2 separate regions of the Homo sapiens genome follow, and region 2 is linked to region 1. Evidence: fine-mapped expression QTL. Tissue or cell type: whole blood. Region 1 holds a variant in brackets; the other region holds the start of a gene. All regions are shown on one strand. Distances are from middle to middle.

The links. PIP is the estimated chance that this variant, and not a neighbour inherited with it, causes the effect.
Region 2: it holds the start of SLAMF6, and the variant in region 1 is fine-mapped to the expression of SLAMF6 in whole blood (TOPMed, PIP 0.94).

Annotation. Positions count from the first base shown.
Region 1 is chr1:160,434,186-160,442,294 of GRCh38, reverse strand. It overlaps LOC105371467 (a long non-coding RNA gene), which reads left to right and starts at 4,118. Exons shown (of 3, transcript XR_922202.3): 1 at 4,118-4,213; 2 at 5,005-5,337. The variant G/A (reference allele first, on the strand shown) is at 4,245.
Region 2 is chr1:160,519,229-160,527,337 of GRCh38, reverse strand. It overlaps SLAMF6 (SLAM family member 6), which reads left to right and starts at 4,083. Exons shown (of 8, transcript NM_001184714.2): 1 at 4,083-4,194. The coding sequence starts at 4,146. RefSeq lists an enhancer at 4,249-4,298.

The DNA.
Region 1 (8,109 bases):
GCTATACCTGTTGGCCAGTTTTAAGTTCCATTAGTGTTTTATTGCCTTCATTTAATTTTGTAAGAAATTAAAGGCAGTGAAAACATTGATAAATCTTGAGGTTTTCAGATTTTATAATCTGTTCCATAAAATGTGTGCCCAGATTACTATTAATAGACAAGGATATTGCAAACTGAGAAATAGTGTCTTTTAGAGATCGCTTGCAGAGCATCAAATAAGCCCTTACTTATGAACATACTAGATGAACATCCTATAAAGATACACATAGTCACTAAAGCATATGTAGGTGAACAACACTTTGCTTATATAAATCAATCCAACTATTTACTAATGCCCCCCACAAGGGGAGCTGAGCTGCCCCCTTTCCCCTAAGGCCTGATAGAGGATAACCTGTACAATACCATTGAATAACTCTGGGCTCATGAAGCAAACCAGCCATGCCTAATAATTCCTTTTGCCCTTTCTTTGTTCACAATTGCCATATGATAGACCACACAAGCTTGGTGCTACCAAGCATCTACCTAAGGAGCCCCAAAGACTATGGGTGAAAAAAAAAAGCAAAAACAAAGTCATTCTAATGGTCTCCAAAAATTCTGAATATGAGATCTGATTTTGGAGAAGAGAAACATTTGATAGAATTACCAGGGGAATATAGTCAATTGATAATGGTCATAACAAAGATACTGGTGAGTAAAAAAGTCCAGAGTTATTAACCAAAACAACGATTTTATTACAACCACAACAAGAGGGTAAGAAAAGAACCTTGAGAAATGCTTGTTCTTCCAGGAGTAAGAAACCCTTGTTTTCACAATCAATGAAATATCCGAAAGCATAAAACCAGAGTCAACTTAAATGTTAATTTTTTTTTTTTTTGAGACAGGGTCTCCCTCTGTCACCCAGGCTGGAGTGCAGTATGTGATCTCAGCTCACTGCAGCCTCGACACCCCAGGCTCAGGTGATCCTCCCAACTCAGCCTCCCAAGTAGCTGGGGCTACAGGCATGGCTAATTTTTGTATTTTTTGTAGAGACGGGGTTTTGCCATGTTGCCCAGGATGGTCTCAAACTTCTGGGCTCAAGCAATCCACCTGCCTCAGCCTCCCAAATTGGTGGGATTACAGGCATAAGCCACCATGCCCGGCCTTAAATGTTAATTTTGAGAAGAGGGCCCACTCTGGCAGAGCAATGTTCTGCTAACTGAACAAAATACATGGAAACAAACAAAAAACAGACTCTTTAGCACCTCACAAGAGGCACAGACTCATAATCAAAGGCAAATCTTCACTTCTTTTCAGCTACTAGTCCTAGTATGACATTCACATTGTTTGATAGCCAAAACAATATTTTAAATGATGGTATTTATCTAAATCTTTAAAATTCTCATTTATAAAGCATATTATCAAGTATTTTATTTTAAATGTTTATAATGTATTGATTTTATTATCTTAATGTGATTGATTACAGAAGAAATATTAAAAAATAGAGATTAAAAACACATGAGCACTATACAGTGGCTATGTACTATATGTCTTATGTCTTGATTTTAAAGTTTTTAAAAATTGCCAGATTTATTAATTCAATATTATACTATACATTTATTGAGTATTAATTTAATATTCTATTGCATTCAAAGTCCATTAAGAAACTTCAAAAGTATATTTAAATCAATATTCAGGTGCAATACACTATTAAGAAATGGGGTTGGGCACAGTGGCTCAGGCCTGTAATCCCAGTACTTTGGGAAGCTGAGACAGGAGGATCGCTTGAGACTGGGTCTTCAAGACCAGCCTGGGCAATATAGCAAGACCTTGTCTCTGCAAGAAAAGAAAAATAGAAAATTAGCTGGACTCCTGCTTGAGCCCAGGAGTTGAGGCTGCAGCGAATCATGATCCTGCCACTGCACTCCAGTCTGGGCAACACAGTGAGAGCTTGTCAAAAAAAAAAAAAAAAAAAAAAAAGAAAAAGAAAAAGCAAGAGAAGGAAGGAAGGAACAAAGGAAGGAAAGAAAAGGTCAGAAAACCAATAACACCTTAAAACTGTACACGTACAGTATAAATGGATTAGCTCTGTAGGTCTATATAATCTGCAATATTGCCTAAGATTTCTATAAAAGAACCGGTTATACAGATATACCACTTATTTAAATTATAACTCAATGTAGTTGCATATATCTATGTTTAGATTTACATATTTTTAAATAATGGATAGGCGATAATTACTTATTTCACTTATAGGACAATTGTTAATTAGTTCTAATTAACTATCTTAGAACTATCTTAATTAACTATCTTAATTCAACTGAAATTTAGATAGTTCCATTTAATTTAGTTTTTTGTTAAAACAGAAATACAAATTATTGAATTAATTAATATGCCATGCTTGCATTTTTATTTCATGCTGTGGAAAAAACAGCAAAAAAAGGTAGACATAATTTAACCCCAAATTCACAAAATAATTTAATTTATTACATGGTTTCTTTTTATTAGGAGTGTAAGTAAAACTTAATTAAAATTAAGTTCTCTTATCGTTTTACCAAATTATACTAAAACTTTCTACAGCTTGGTACAAAAAAGCTTCTTTTAGCCTTTTAAAATTGTAACTAAATTGTAAATTTAAATTTATAACTCAAATTGTAATAAATCTATCATTTTTACCTTTATACAAAGCAAAGAAATTGAGGCCTGGAGTCTCTTGCATTTCTTTGTAATCGAATTTAGATTGATTTTTTTCCTCCTTGGAAGTCTTTGATATCCCCCCAGGAGATTTGCAGTAAGCTGATGTCCACTTGTGCTGACAACCTTTCGCCATTTGAAAAGCAATTCCTAGCTTGCTTCTGAGAGCTGGTAGAAATTGAATGTCTGCCTCGGGACACCAAATTATCATGCAACGCAAACTGTCCATCATGAACTGGGTGTTTTCTGAACCACCAAATATAAAACTGAATTACCTAACAGGAATTCATTATAAAACAGAAGTGGAATATACAAAAATGGGTCTGAACAGGTCCAGAATACACAAGTATGCTGCATAAGCAGGGGACTTTGTAATTCCAGCTACTCTTCCACCTCTCCCTTGCTCTACACCGACGGCCTCATGAGGAATTCCCTATGAACAGTTAATGGAGGAAGAAAGAGCATGGGCCTGGATTTGCATGCTATGTCAGCCCCAGATGAATGAGAATGGCCTCTCCACTACAGTGAACCTCACTCAGTAGAGGCTTCAAAGTCAGTAATGAAAGAAAATCTCTCCAGCAGGCAGAACTTGAAGCAGCATATCTAGTTGTACACTTTGTTTGGAAGGAGAGATTGCCTGAGGTACATATCTACATTGAATCATGGGCAGCATGTTAACAGGTTGACCACCTTGTCAGTCACTTAAATGAAAAACAATATTGGAAAAGCAGTAAAAAGGAAGTCTGGGAAAGAACTACATAAAGTGGTCACAGTATTAAGATATTTGTGTCTCAAGTAAACGCTCTTTAAAATACTAGGGTTTCCTAATCCCAGGGTTCCTCAACCATGACATAAACTTACTGTATGCAGAGCATCCAGATTGGCTGCTCCGTATCACCCAGTGGAACTTAGAGGCAAGGAGAACTAATGCAAATATGAAGTTCATGCTACCTGCTGGGCCAAGTGTAATAAAGTCCTTTGTCTCTGACCCAGGAGTCTCATGTTTTTTGTCAGTACCCATGAAACTAACAGACAAACTTATTAGTTTAGAAGTGGCATAAAATCTCAGGCTTTTCATAGTTGTTGGAAGTTCTGGCAATGAGGACGAGATGCTGACAGAGATAGGGCTTTCGGGAAGAGGAAAGTACAATGGCCCTTTTGCAGGCCTGTTTGGAAGATCTGAGAGACTCCTGGGGATCCAGTAGTGACTGTTCTCATCCAAGTAGTGAGTGAGAGGTGGAGAATGAGGATACCCACTGTTCTACCTGTTAATGGGGCTGAGGGGTATTAGTTTGGATTGAAGCAAGCTGTCCAAATGGTATTTGTTCTTTCTCCTCTGGGCAGAAGGAGGGAGGGCTATTATTATGATGAAACAGTAAGCCCCATGGCACAAGCCAACAAGCAATAAGGCAGTGGCCACTAGTTAAGGGGTCCCCACAGCTAAAATAAATGGTGTTGGTAGTGAGGATATAGATGTTTGGGTAGACCACAAACAGAATTTGTTTACGTGAACCTGGATCACCACCAGTCACTTGAAACTGAAAGTAAGCGCAGATTGCTTACTGACACAGATCC[G/A]TACTCAAGAGCCTGGTAAAATCATTGCTCTCTGCCCCACAGACAAACATTATCTTTATCTCCCTAGGCTACTAATTTCTATAGTAAGTGTGAAATATCTCTTAGATGTCTTTGTGAAGATGTCAAATAAGCACTTAGATTTATAAGTCTAGAATTCTGGGGAGAAGTCAGGGCAAGAAATAGAGATTTGGGAGTACTTGGTATATAACTAACATTTATTGGGTACTTACTACATGCCAGGCATATCTAAGTAGTTTATGAATATTTTCTGAGTTACACTCCCAACATCCCTGTGAGGTTGGCACTGTGTTATTGTCTTCATTTTAAAGATAAAGAAACAGAAAATTTCCTCAAGGCCACATAGCTACTGGGAGCAAAACCAGAAGAAAAACCCAGGCAGGTTGACCCCAGAGCCCATGTTCATTACTACTATGCTGTGCTATCTGGTACACAGACGGTATTTAAAGCCTTGGGATGAGATGAGGATACCCATGGGTAGTATGTAGAAAAGAGAAAAGGGGACTGAAGTACTGCAACATTTAATGATGTCCTTCAGAATTTCCAATTCCTCCTGTCTGGTTCTGTATTTAATAGACAAATGCTAATTTATCAATTTGAACTGTCCCATCAGGAATATACCTGTACAAATGACCAACTCCAGTTCCCAAACTAGATCTATCAGTTGTTATAAATTGATAAATTAACATTCTTATTTATAATTGCTCTTTTATATGTATGGCTGGTTTTATTCCATTTCCAGAATGTTATTTCCCTTTGATTACTTAATGAAGACAGAATGTCTGGACCAGTAATGACCTCCTAAGATACTGACACTCTGTGAGGTACTATCTGAGGCAAACAGGACTTCTTGGACATCTCTTTGACCACAATATGGCACCATACCAGGAATCTGAGGAAGCAGAGGTTCCACATGGTTTGCTGAAAATTCAAGGGGAAAACAACATCTGAACTGAAAATGCTTAACTCAGAGCTCTCCTCAAATAGTAAATACTATTTCAGAAACGGTTGGTAAGCTTTGGCAAGACGCTGCCCTCAGAAAGAACCATGGCAGCTGAGAAATAGCAAGTACCAGGTATGGGTTCTGTGGTATAAACATGAGGGGCTCCACAAAGGTCCTCTTCTCTTTAGTGTCGAGCAATTATGTGTACATATACACAGCGTACATTAGATGTTCCAATTCTTCTCCCTGTCTTTGATTTTATTCTTAAAACAAAAGATTCATTTGTAACTTTTATTTCAGTTGCCATCAGAGTCTTAGTAAAATAGCAGTCCCTTAGTTGTTCAGAAATTCATTTTTATTTTTAATTATATGGCTACGTAATAGTTGTATATATTTACAGAGCACATATGATGTTTTGATACAGACATATAGTATGTAATGATCAAATCAGGGTAATTGGGGTATCCATCATCTCAAGCATTTATTTATCATTTATTTGTGTTAAGAACATTCCAATTCCCCTATTTTAGTTATTTTTAAATATACAATAAATTGTTGTTAACTACAGTCACCTTATTGTGCTACCAAATACTACAACTTATTCATTCTATTTAACTGTACTGTTATATCCATTAACCACTCCCTGTTTATCCCCCTGTACCTACTATTCTCCCCAGCTTCTGGTAAACATCATTCTAGTCTCTCTCTCCATAACTTCAATTTTTTTTAGCTCCCATATGTGAATGAGTACATGTGATGTTTGTCTTTTTGTGCCTGGCTTATTTTACTTAATATAATGTCCTCCAGTTCCATCCATATCGTTGCAAATAACAGAATTCCATTGTATATATGTACCACATTTCCTTTATGCATTCCTCCATTGATGGACATTTAGGTTGCTTCCATATCTTGGTTATGGTAAATAGTACTGCCATAAACATGGGAGTGCAGACATCTCTTCGAAATACTGATTTCCTTTCTTTGGGCGTACACCCAGCAGTGGGATTGTTGGATCATATAGTAGTTCTGTTTTTAGTTATTTGAGGAACCTCCATACTGTTCTCCATAGTGGCTGTACTAATTGACATTCCCACCAACAGTGTACAAGCATTCCCCTTGCTATACATCCTTGCTAGCCTTCTCAAGAAATCTTTTGACAACTTCCAAGGTCCAATTACTTTGACACTCAATTTTTAGACAGCAATTTCTTGGATAGAGTTTGGTTATTGAAGAGAATGAGGAAGCTCTTCCCAGTCAAAAAGATGTTGTGCCCCATCCTTTATTTCAAGGAAACCTTTCCTGACAACCTTGGTCAGTTTCCTACTGTAAGATCCCATAGTCCCCTATACTTCATCACTACATTCATCACCTTTGAAATTAAGTGATTACTATCTGAGAACAAAGACTATGTCCATGTTATTCAGTGCCATGCCACCAATACCTAGCATAGCTCCTGGCACATAGAAGGTGCTCAACAAATATTGGTTAAATGACAGAATGAGTGAAAAACAGTAAACACAGATAAGACAGTTTCCAGCAACATTTAACTACAAGGTCGTTAAGATCTTGAAGTTTGTACAGTGACCACCACTTGGGCAAAGAAACTTGAGAACATATTTCTAAATTATTGATATATGATGCTACCTACAATTATTGAAATATGGTGTTACTTTTGTGAAAGGAAAATAAATCTTGGGGCCCCAAAATCACTAACCTAAATGGAAAAGTCAAGCGAGGAACTGCTTAAGGCAAACCTGCCTCCCATTCTATTCAAAGTCACCCCTCTTCTCACTGAGATAAATGCATATCTGAGTGCCTCCTTCGGAGAGGCTAATCAAAAATTCAACAGAATGCAACCATTTGTCTCTTATCTACCTATGACCTGGAAGCCCCCCTCCTCACTTCGAGTTGCCCCACCGTTGCTTCAAGTTGTCCTGCCTTTTCCAGACCAAACCAATGTTCATCTTACATACATTGACTAATGTCTCATCTCTCCCTAAAATGTATAAAATCAAACTGTATTCTGACCACCTTGGGCACAGGTCATCATGACCTGAGGCTGTGTCATGGGCATGTGTCCTCAACCTTGGAAAAATAAAGTTTCTAAATTAACTGAGACATGTCTCAGATATTCAAGGATCACACTTTCATTCTATACCCATAGCAATTAATGCAAATATTGAAGTACATTAAGTCACCTTATCTGAAACTATCTAAATATGGTAAAACTCATGAATTTCCTCTGTTCTATTGGTCATTGATATGGTTTGGCTGAGTCCCCACCCAAATCTCATCTTAAATTTTTGTTCCCGTAATCCTCATGTGTCATGGGAGAGACCAGACGGAGATAATTGAATCGTGGGGGTGGTTACCCTCATGCTGTTCTCATGATAGTGAGTTCTCACAAGATCTGATGGTTTGATAAGGGGCTGCCCCCTTCAGTTGGCACTCACTTCTCTCACCTGCCGCCATGTAAGACATGCCTGTTTTGCCTTCTGTCATGATTGTAAGTTTCCTGAGGTTTCCCTAGTCATGAGGAACTGTGAGTCAATTAAACCTCTTTTCTTTATAAATTATCCAGTCTTGAGTATATCTTCATAGCAGCATGAAAACAGACTAATACAGTAAATTGGTACAACAGAGAGTGGGGTACTGCTATAAGGATATCCAATTATGTGGAAGTGACTTTGGAACTGGGTAACAGGCACACGTTAAAACAGTTTGGAGGGCTCAGAAGAAGACAGGAAACTTTGGAACTTCCTAGAGACTTGGAGGGCTCAGAAGACAGGAAAATGTGGGAAAGGTTGGAAGTTCCTAGAGACTTTTTGAATGGCTTTGACCAAAATGCTGATAGTGATATGGACAATGAAGTCCAGGCTGAGGTGGTCTCAAATGGAGATGAGG
Region 2 (8,109 bases), 85 kb before region 1:
AAAGAATGGAAATCATAACAAACTGTCTCTCAGACCGCAGTACAATCAAATTAGAACTCAGGATTAAGAAACTCACTCAAAACCACAAAACTACATGGAAACTGAACAATCTGCCCTGAATGACTACTGGGTAAATAAAAAAATTAAGGCAGATATAAATAAGTTCTTTAAGGCCAATGAGAACAAAGACACAATGTACCAGAATCTCTGGGACACAGCCAAAGCAGTATGTAGTGGGAAACATAGCACTAAATGCTCACAAGGGAAAGCAAGAGAAATCTAAAATTCACATCTGACATCACACTTAAAAGAACTAGAGAAGCAAGAGCAAACAAATTCAAAAGCTAACAGAAGACAAGAAATAATTAAAATCAGAGCAGAACTGAAGGAGATAGAGACACTAAATACCCTTCAAAAATCAATGAATCCAAGAGCTGTTTTTTGCAAAGATCAACAAAATAGATAGCTAGTCAGACTAATGAAGAAAAGAGAAGAATCAAATAGACACAATAAAAAATGATAAAGGGGACATTGCCACTGATCCCACAGAAATACAATCTACCGTCAGAGAATACTACAAACACCTCTACACAAATACTAGAAAATCTAGAAGAAATGGATAAATTCCTGGACACATACACCCTCCCAAGATTAAACCAGAAGGAAATCAAATCCCTAAATAGACCAATAAAAAGTTCTGAATTTGAGGCAGTAATTAATAACCTACCAACCAAAAAAAGCCCAGGACTAGATGGATTCACAGCCGAATTCTACCAGAGATACAAAGAGGAGCTGGTGCCATTCCTTCTGAAACTATTCCAAACAATAAAAAAAGAGGGACTCCTCCCTAACTCATTTTATGAGGCCAGCATCATCCTGATACCAAAACCTGGCAGAGACACAACAAAAAAAGAAAATTTTAGGCCAATATCCCTGATGAACATTGATGTAAAAATCCTCAATAAAATACAGGCAAACTGAATCCAGCAGCATATCAAAAAGCTTATCCACCAGCCGGGCATGGTGGCTCGTGCCTGTAATCCCAGCACTTTGGGAGGCTGAGGTGGGTGGATCATGAGGTCAGGAGATCGAGACCATCCTGGCTAACACAGTGAAACTCTGTCTGTACTAAAAATACAGAAAAATTAGCTGGGCGTGGTAGTGGGCACCTGCAGTCCCAGCTACTCAGGAGGCTGAGGCAGGAGAATGGCATGAACCCAGGAGGCGGAACTTGCAGTGAGCCAAGATTGTTCCACTGCACTCTGGCCTGGGCGACAGAGCAAGACTCCACCTCAAAAAAAAAAAAAAAAAAAGCTTATCCACCACAATCAAGTTGGCTTCATCCCTGGTATGCAAGGTTGGTTCAACATATGCAAATCAATAAATGTAATTCATCACATAAACAGAACCAATGACAAAAACCACATGATTATCTCAATAGATGTAGAAAAGGCCTTTGATAAAATTCAACATCCCTTCATGTTAAAAACTCTTAATAAACTAGGTACTGATGGAACGTATCTCAAAATAATGAGAGCTATTTATGACAAACCCACAGCCATTATCATACTGAATGGGCAAAATCTGGAAGCATTCCCTTTGAAAACTAGCACAAGGATGCCCTCTCTCACCACTCCTATTCAACATAATATTGAAAGTTCTGACCAGGGCAATCAGGCAAGAGAAAGAAGTAAAGGGTATTCAGATAAGAAGAGAGGAAATCAAATAGTCTCTGTTTGCAGATGACATGATTGTATATTTAGAAAACTCCATTGTCTTAGCCCAAAATCTCCTTAAGCTGATAAGCAGCTTCAGCAGTCTCAGGATACAAAATCAATGTGCAAAAATCACAAGCATTCCTATACACCAAAAATAGACAAACAGAGAGCCAAGTCGTGAGTGAACTGCCATTCACAATTGCTACAAAGAGAATATAATACCTAGGAATACAACTTACAAGGGATGTGAAGGACCTCTTCAAGGAGAACTACAAACCACTGCTCAAGGAAATAAGAAAGTACACAAACAAATGGAAAACCATTCCATGCTCATAGATAGGAAGAATCAATATCATGAAAATGGCCATATTGCCCAAAGTAATTTATAGGTTCAATGCTATTTCCATCAAACTACTATTGACTTTCTTCACAGAATTAGAAAAAACTACTTTAAATTTCATACAGAACCAAAAACGAGCCCATATAGCCAAGACAATTGTAAGCCAAAAGAACAAAGCTGGAGGCAGCACGCTAACTGACTTCAAACTATACTACAAGGCTGCAGTAACCAAAACAGCATGGTACTGGTACCAAAACAGATATATAGACCAATGGAGCAGAACAGAGGCCTCAGAAATAACATCACACATCTACAACCATCTGATCTTTGACAAACCTAACAAAAACAAGCAATGGGGAAAGGATTCCCTATTTAATAAATGGTGTTGGGAAAACTGGCTAGCAATTATGCAGAAAACTGAAACTGGTTCCCTTCCTTATACCTTACACAAAAATTAACTCAAGATGGATTAAAGACTTAAATGTTAGACCTAAAACCACAAAAACCCCAGAAGAAAACCTAGGCAATACCATTCAGGACAAAGGCATGGGCAAAGACTTCAATACTAAAACATCAAAATCAATGGCAACAAAAGCCAAAATTGACAAATGGGACCTAATTAAACTAAAGAGCTTCTGCACAGCAAAAGAAACTATCATCAGAGTGAACAGGGAACCTACAGAATGGGAGAAAATTTTTGCAGTCTATCCATTTGACAAAAGGCTAATATCCAGAATCTACAAAGAACTCAAACAAATTTACAAGAAAAAAAAAAAAACCCCAACAAAAAGTGGGCAAAGGATATGAAGACACTTCTCAAAAGAAGACATTTATGCGGCCAAGAAACATATGAAAAAAGCTCATCATCACTGGTCATTAGAGAAATGCAAATCAAAACTACAATGAGATACCATCTCATGCCAGTTAGAATGGCAATCATTAAAAAATCAGGAAACAACAGATGCTGGAGAGGATGTAGAGAAATGGGAATGTTTTCACACTGTTGGTGGGAGTGTAAACTAGTTCAACCATTGTGGAATACAGTGTGGCGATTCCTCAAGGATCTAGAACTAGAAATACCATTTGACCCAGCAATCCCATTACTGGTTATATACCCAAAGGATTATAAATCATGCTGCTATAAAGACACATGCACACTTATGTTTATTGCAGCACTGTTCACAATAGCAAAGACTTGGAACCAACCCAAATGCCCATCAATGATACACTGGATAAAGAAAATGTGGCATATATATACCATGGAATACCATGCAGCCATAAAAAAGGATGAGTTCATGTCCTTTGCAGGGACATGGATGAAGCTGGAAACCATCATTCTCAGCAAACTAACACAAGAACAGAAAGCCAAACAACGCATGTTCTCACTCATAGGTGGGAACTGAACAATGAGAACACATGGACACAGGTAGGGGAACATCATACACTGGGGTATGTCACGGGGTGGGGGGCAAGGGGAGGGATAGCATTAGGAGAAATATCTAATGTAGATGACAAGTTAATAGGTGCAGCACACCAACATGGCATATGTATACATATGTAACAAACCTGCACATTGTGCACATGTACCCTAGAACTTAAAGTATAATTTTAAAAAATCAGTTTTCTTTTGGCTTTTTCTTAGCTTTATACTTAAATATTTTTTTCTAATGTAATTAGAGTGGAATTGTTTTTTGAATTTTATTTTTGGATTACTCATAGCTAGTATATACAATTGCAATTGAATTTTATATTTTGATTTTGTATCTTTTCACCTTGCTGAACTCATTTATTTGTTCTAGTAGATTTTAGGAAATTCCTTACAGACTTTTACATATAAGTTTATGAAAGATGCAATAAAGGACTTTATCTTCTTTTCCAAAAAAAAAAAAAATTTGTGCACTTAGCTCAGAAAAAAGTAAACAAAAAATTAACACAGTTACAAATTAGGATTTTTAGTGCAGGGGAAGAAGTTGTCACCACGCCTCTAAGAGGAAGGGGAAGTCTCAGAAGTATTTTCAGTTTATGACAGAAGGGCAAAAACATTGACTGCCTCAAGGTCTCAAGCACCAGTCTTCACCGCGGAAAGCATGTTGTGGCTGTTCCAATCGCTCCTGTTTGTCTTCTGCTTTGGCCCAGGTAAATGTCAATCCAGATCGGTGTAGTCACTGAGTGACTCCCTGGTTTTGTGCAGCTTGCTCAACCTAAATCGTCTGTATACAGTTGTCTGGCTCTCTGCCAAGGGATTGGGGCGGGAAAGGGGACGCTGGCAGTGTTACCTGATATACTACTACCTCCTCTCAACTTTGGATGCGATAAGCCTGAGATGGTTGTCGGTGAACAATTTCAATTGTGTCTGCATGTAAGAAAGTTATTTGCTGGGGCAGAGGAAATAAGCTTTTGAAGACAAGACTGTTTGTGGTTTATGACCAGCATCTTGTGTTATAAAGAGTACCAAGACCAAGAAAATGGGCCCTCATACCAATGTATCTACTATCGTACTGTGAACCTCAGGGAGGTTACTTATCCTTCCTGAACCTCACTATCCTCATCTAAATTATTAAAAACCTATTATTCAGTTGAGCCAAATTTTCTGGGCCCAACCAAACACACCAAAAATAACCCTCTCACCTTTTGCTCATTGCAAAAAAAAAGGTTTCCATCTCTCCCCTCCTTTAGTGCAAATTAGGGCTAGCTAGTCCAGCAATGCATTATATATGGCAGTGAGAAAAGAATGAACTGATCCAGCTGGCTTCTTGTTTCCTGCTGTCCATTATATGGAGAAGATGAAGATTCATATCACATTTGGGGAACTACAAGTGGTCCACGGGAGACAAAGTGTAGCATTCAGGCAGAGATAGTCCAGGAGACCAATGGAAATCTAGTCCAGAGCTAGCCCAGGGTAGCAGATAAAAGTAGGAAGCATTCACTGAGCACTTATTGTATTTCAAGTATTGTGCCAGGTGCTGTACACACGTTATGAGTCTCATGAGAATTCTATGAATTTATACTATTAATATCTCCATTTTAAAATGAAGAACTGAGGTGAACTTAATTTAAATAATTTGCCCAAATTTCATTAGCCAGCATGCGACAAGCTCTTGTAATAGTTATGAGAAAAAATAACAGTTCAACAAGTGTGGCAGCAGCATAAGAGAAAGAAGAGACTGAAGCAAGAGATCCCATCAATATGGAGTTAAGTAGAGTAATTGGTAATTGGAATGAGAAAGGAATAAATATTCATTGAGCACCTACTGAATGCTTGGCACTCTTCTAGTTTGCATGAATACATCATGAACAAAGCAAGCAAAAATTCCTGCCCTCATGGAGTTAACATTTTAGCAGGAGACAAACTGTAAAAAAAGATAAACAAGTAAAATAGTGTATTGGGTAGGAAGAAATAAATCAAGAAGGAAAGGGAGAGATGAAATATGGTAAAGACGGCAGTGAAATTTCAGACAGGATAGCCAAAGAAAGTGACAAAATTGGAAGGTGGAGAGCAGCCACAGGAGGAAGGTGAGTTCAATTTTGGACCTACTGATTTTAGGATGTCAGTGTGCTATACATGAGGAAGTTACGTGGAGGATCCTGGGAACTTAGGACTAGGGGTAGAGCTGAGGCTAGAGACTTAAAAATCAATGGCATAGAGATATGTTAAGCTGAGGAGAAAACTGGAATGAGAACAGAACTTTGGGAAATATATATAAAATGCAGAAAGAGAGAGAATTCTTTCCTTCATTCAAGAGCCACTTCCTGATCTAGGAGCAGAATCTTGAGTTTTTGCTTCATTTTTACCACCCTGCAAAATTATTTCCACCTCTAGAATAAAATATTCTGAATGTCCTTGTGTTAAAACTCCTCTTCTTCTCCCTATTTCCATGAATACTTCTTATAATGACCCTATGAAATATACAGTGCTCCAATCTCCACTTCACAGATGGGGAAAGAAGGCACAGAACACTAAAGTAACTTGCTCACTGCCCCACATTTATGGGGGAAATGGGTATAGAAAGAGAAACACATTTGAATGAGTTTACAGGAGGCAGATGCAGGTGTTCTGAGACCCAGGAGGAGAGAAGTGGCTGCTAGAATTGGAAATCAGGAAGCTTGGCTCCGGAGTCTGTGCTCATAGCCACTTCACTATGCTACTTAGCTTACACACAGTCATACATTCACACAAATGTGTACATAATTAGAAAATGTGAGGCCAGCAAAAAAAATAAGCAGGGCACCTTCATAGAGAAAAACACGGGGACCTGCTTTGGACGGAGTGATGAAGAAAGGACTTCCTGGAAAAGTAACATCTCATCTGATATTTAAAGGGTGTGAAAAGTTAAACAGGAAAAGTCAAATGAAGAAGATTTTAGGGCAGAGGGAATCATGTGTGAAAAGCCGTGATGCAGGAAAGAGCCTGGAGTGATTTAGGAAGGGAAAGAAGACCACTGTTGCAAAAATGTGGGGCAAATGAAATTAATCTTTGAAACAACCATGAAAAACAATGACTCATGCCAGCCTACATTCTTTGAAGTGGGTTGGGCACTATCCTGACTCCTTTTAGAAAATTTAGTGGAAAAGACAAACCATATTGAAAAATAATCCCATTTCCTTTAACTCAAGCCCTGGGTGGCAAAACTAACAGAACAAAACAATAATTGTAAATAAAATCAAGCATCATGACTTCCTAGAGAAAATAAATCTCGTTTGTTTCTTCATTTTGATTTTTATAGATGGAAAGTTGGAAATTTGTCAAACTTAAATGTGCATATAAATTACTTGGGGGAATCTTATTAAAATGCTGATTGGGGAATAGGGACTGAGATTCTGCATTTCTAAGAGGCTCCCAGGTGACACCAATGCTGCCTGTCCATGGACCACACTAAGCAGCAAGGTTCTAAATTCCAATGGACTTCAGTCATACTGGGATTGTAGGGAGGAAGAAATAGAAACTAACTTTGAGTGTGTTTGCAGGAAGCAGATATAGGTATTCTGAGGTCCAGGAGAGAGCAGTGGTTGGAAATGTAAGTAAAGCAAACACATGAGGGCTGATTCTGAGGTTGAGTCAAAATGTGCAATGCTCTTCTGTGAAGAGATTGTGACCTGATGGCCCCCGAGCAGTGTTATCTACTTTTTACCAACCGTCCACATCTTTCAAATGTTTATTGTGCTCAACAGGCAGAGAGCTGTTTTATATTTTTTCATTATCCTCAGACACGTGTTTTTCCACCTCTCAGAATCTGCAATCTCCAATGTGACCTCCAGGTGTTCATGCCTCTGTTTTTGGTCCCTTAACCCAGATTCAGCTTTGATTGTTTCTCTGTTCACACTCAGACATTTTTTATTAAGGTGAAATTCTTGTAACAGGATGTAATAATTTTAAAGTGACATTTTGTACATTTTGTGAAACCACCACTTCTATTATTCTAAAACATTTTCATCACCCCAAAAGGAAACCCTGTACCCACTAAGCAGTCATTTCCCATTCTCCCCTCCCCCCCAGCCCCTGGCAAATACCGATCTGCTTTCTGTCTCTGTGGGTTTACCTATTCTGGATAATTTCATATAAATGAAATCACACAATATATGACCTTTCGTGTCTGACTTCTTTCACTTAGCATCATGTTTTCCAGGTTCACCTATGCTGAACCATGTATCAGTACTTCATTCCTTTTTGGCTGAATAGTATTTTGTATTCTGTATATACTACATTTTATTTATCCATTTATCTATCAGTGGACACCTGGGTTGTTTTTGCCTTTTGGCTCTTGCGAATAGTGCTGCTATGTGTACAAGTATTTGACTACCTGTTTTTATCTGGGTATATACCTAGGAATGGATTTGTCAGATCATATAATTCTATGCTTAACTTTTTGGGAAATTGCCAAACTGTTTTCCACAATGGCTGTACCATTTTACATTTCCACTAGCTGTGTACAAGAGTTATAATTTCTCCACATCCTCATCAACACTTGTTTTTTTCCTTTTTAAAAAGATTATTATCACCATCCTAATAGGTGTGAAGTGGTATATTATTGTGGTTTTGATTTACATTTTCCC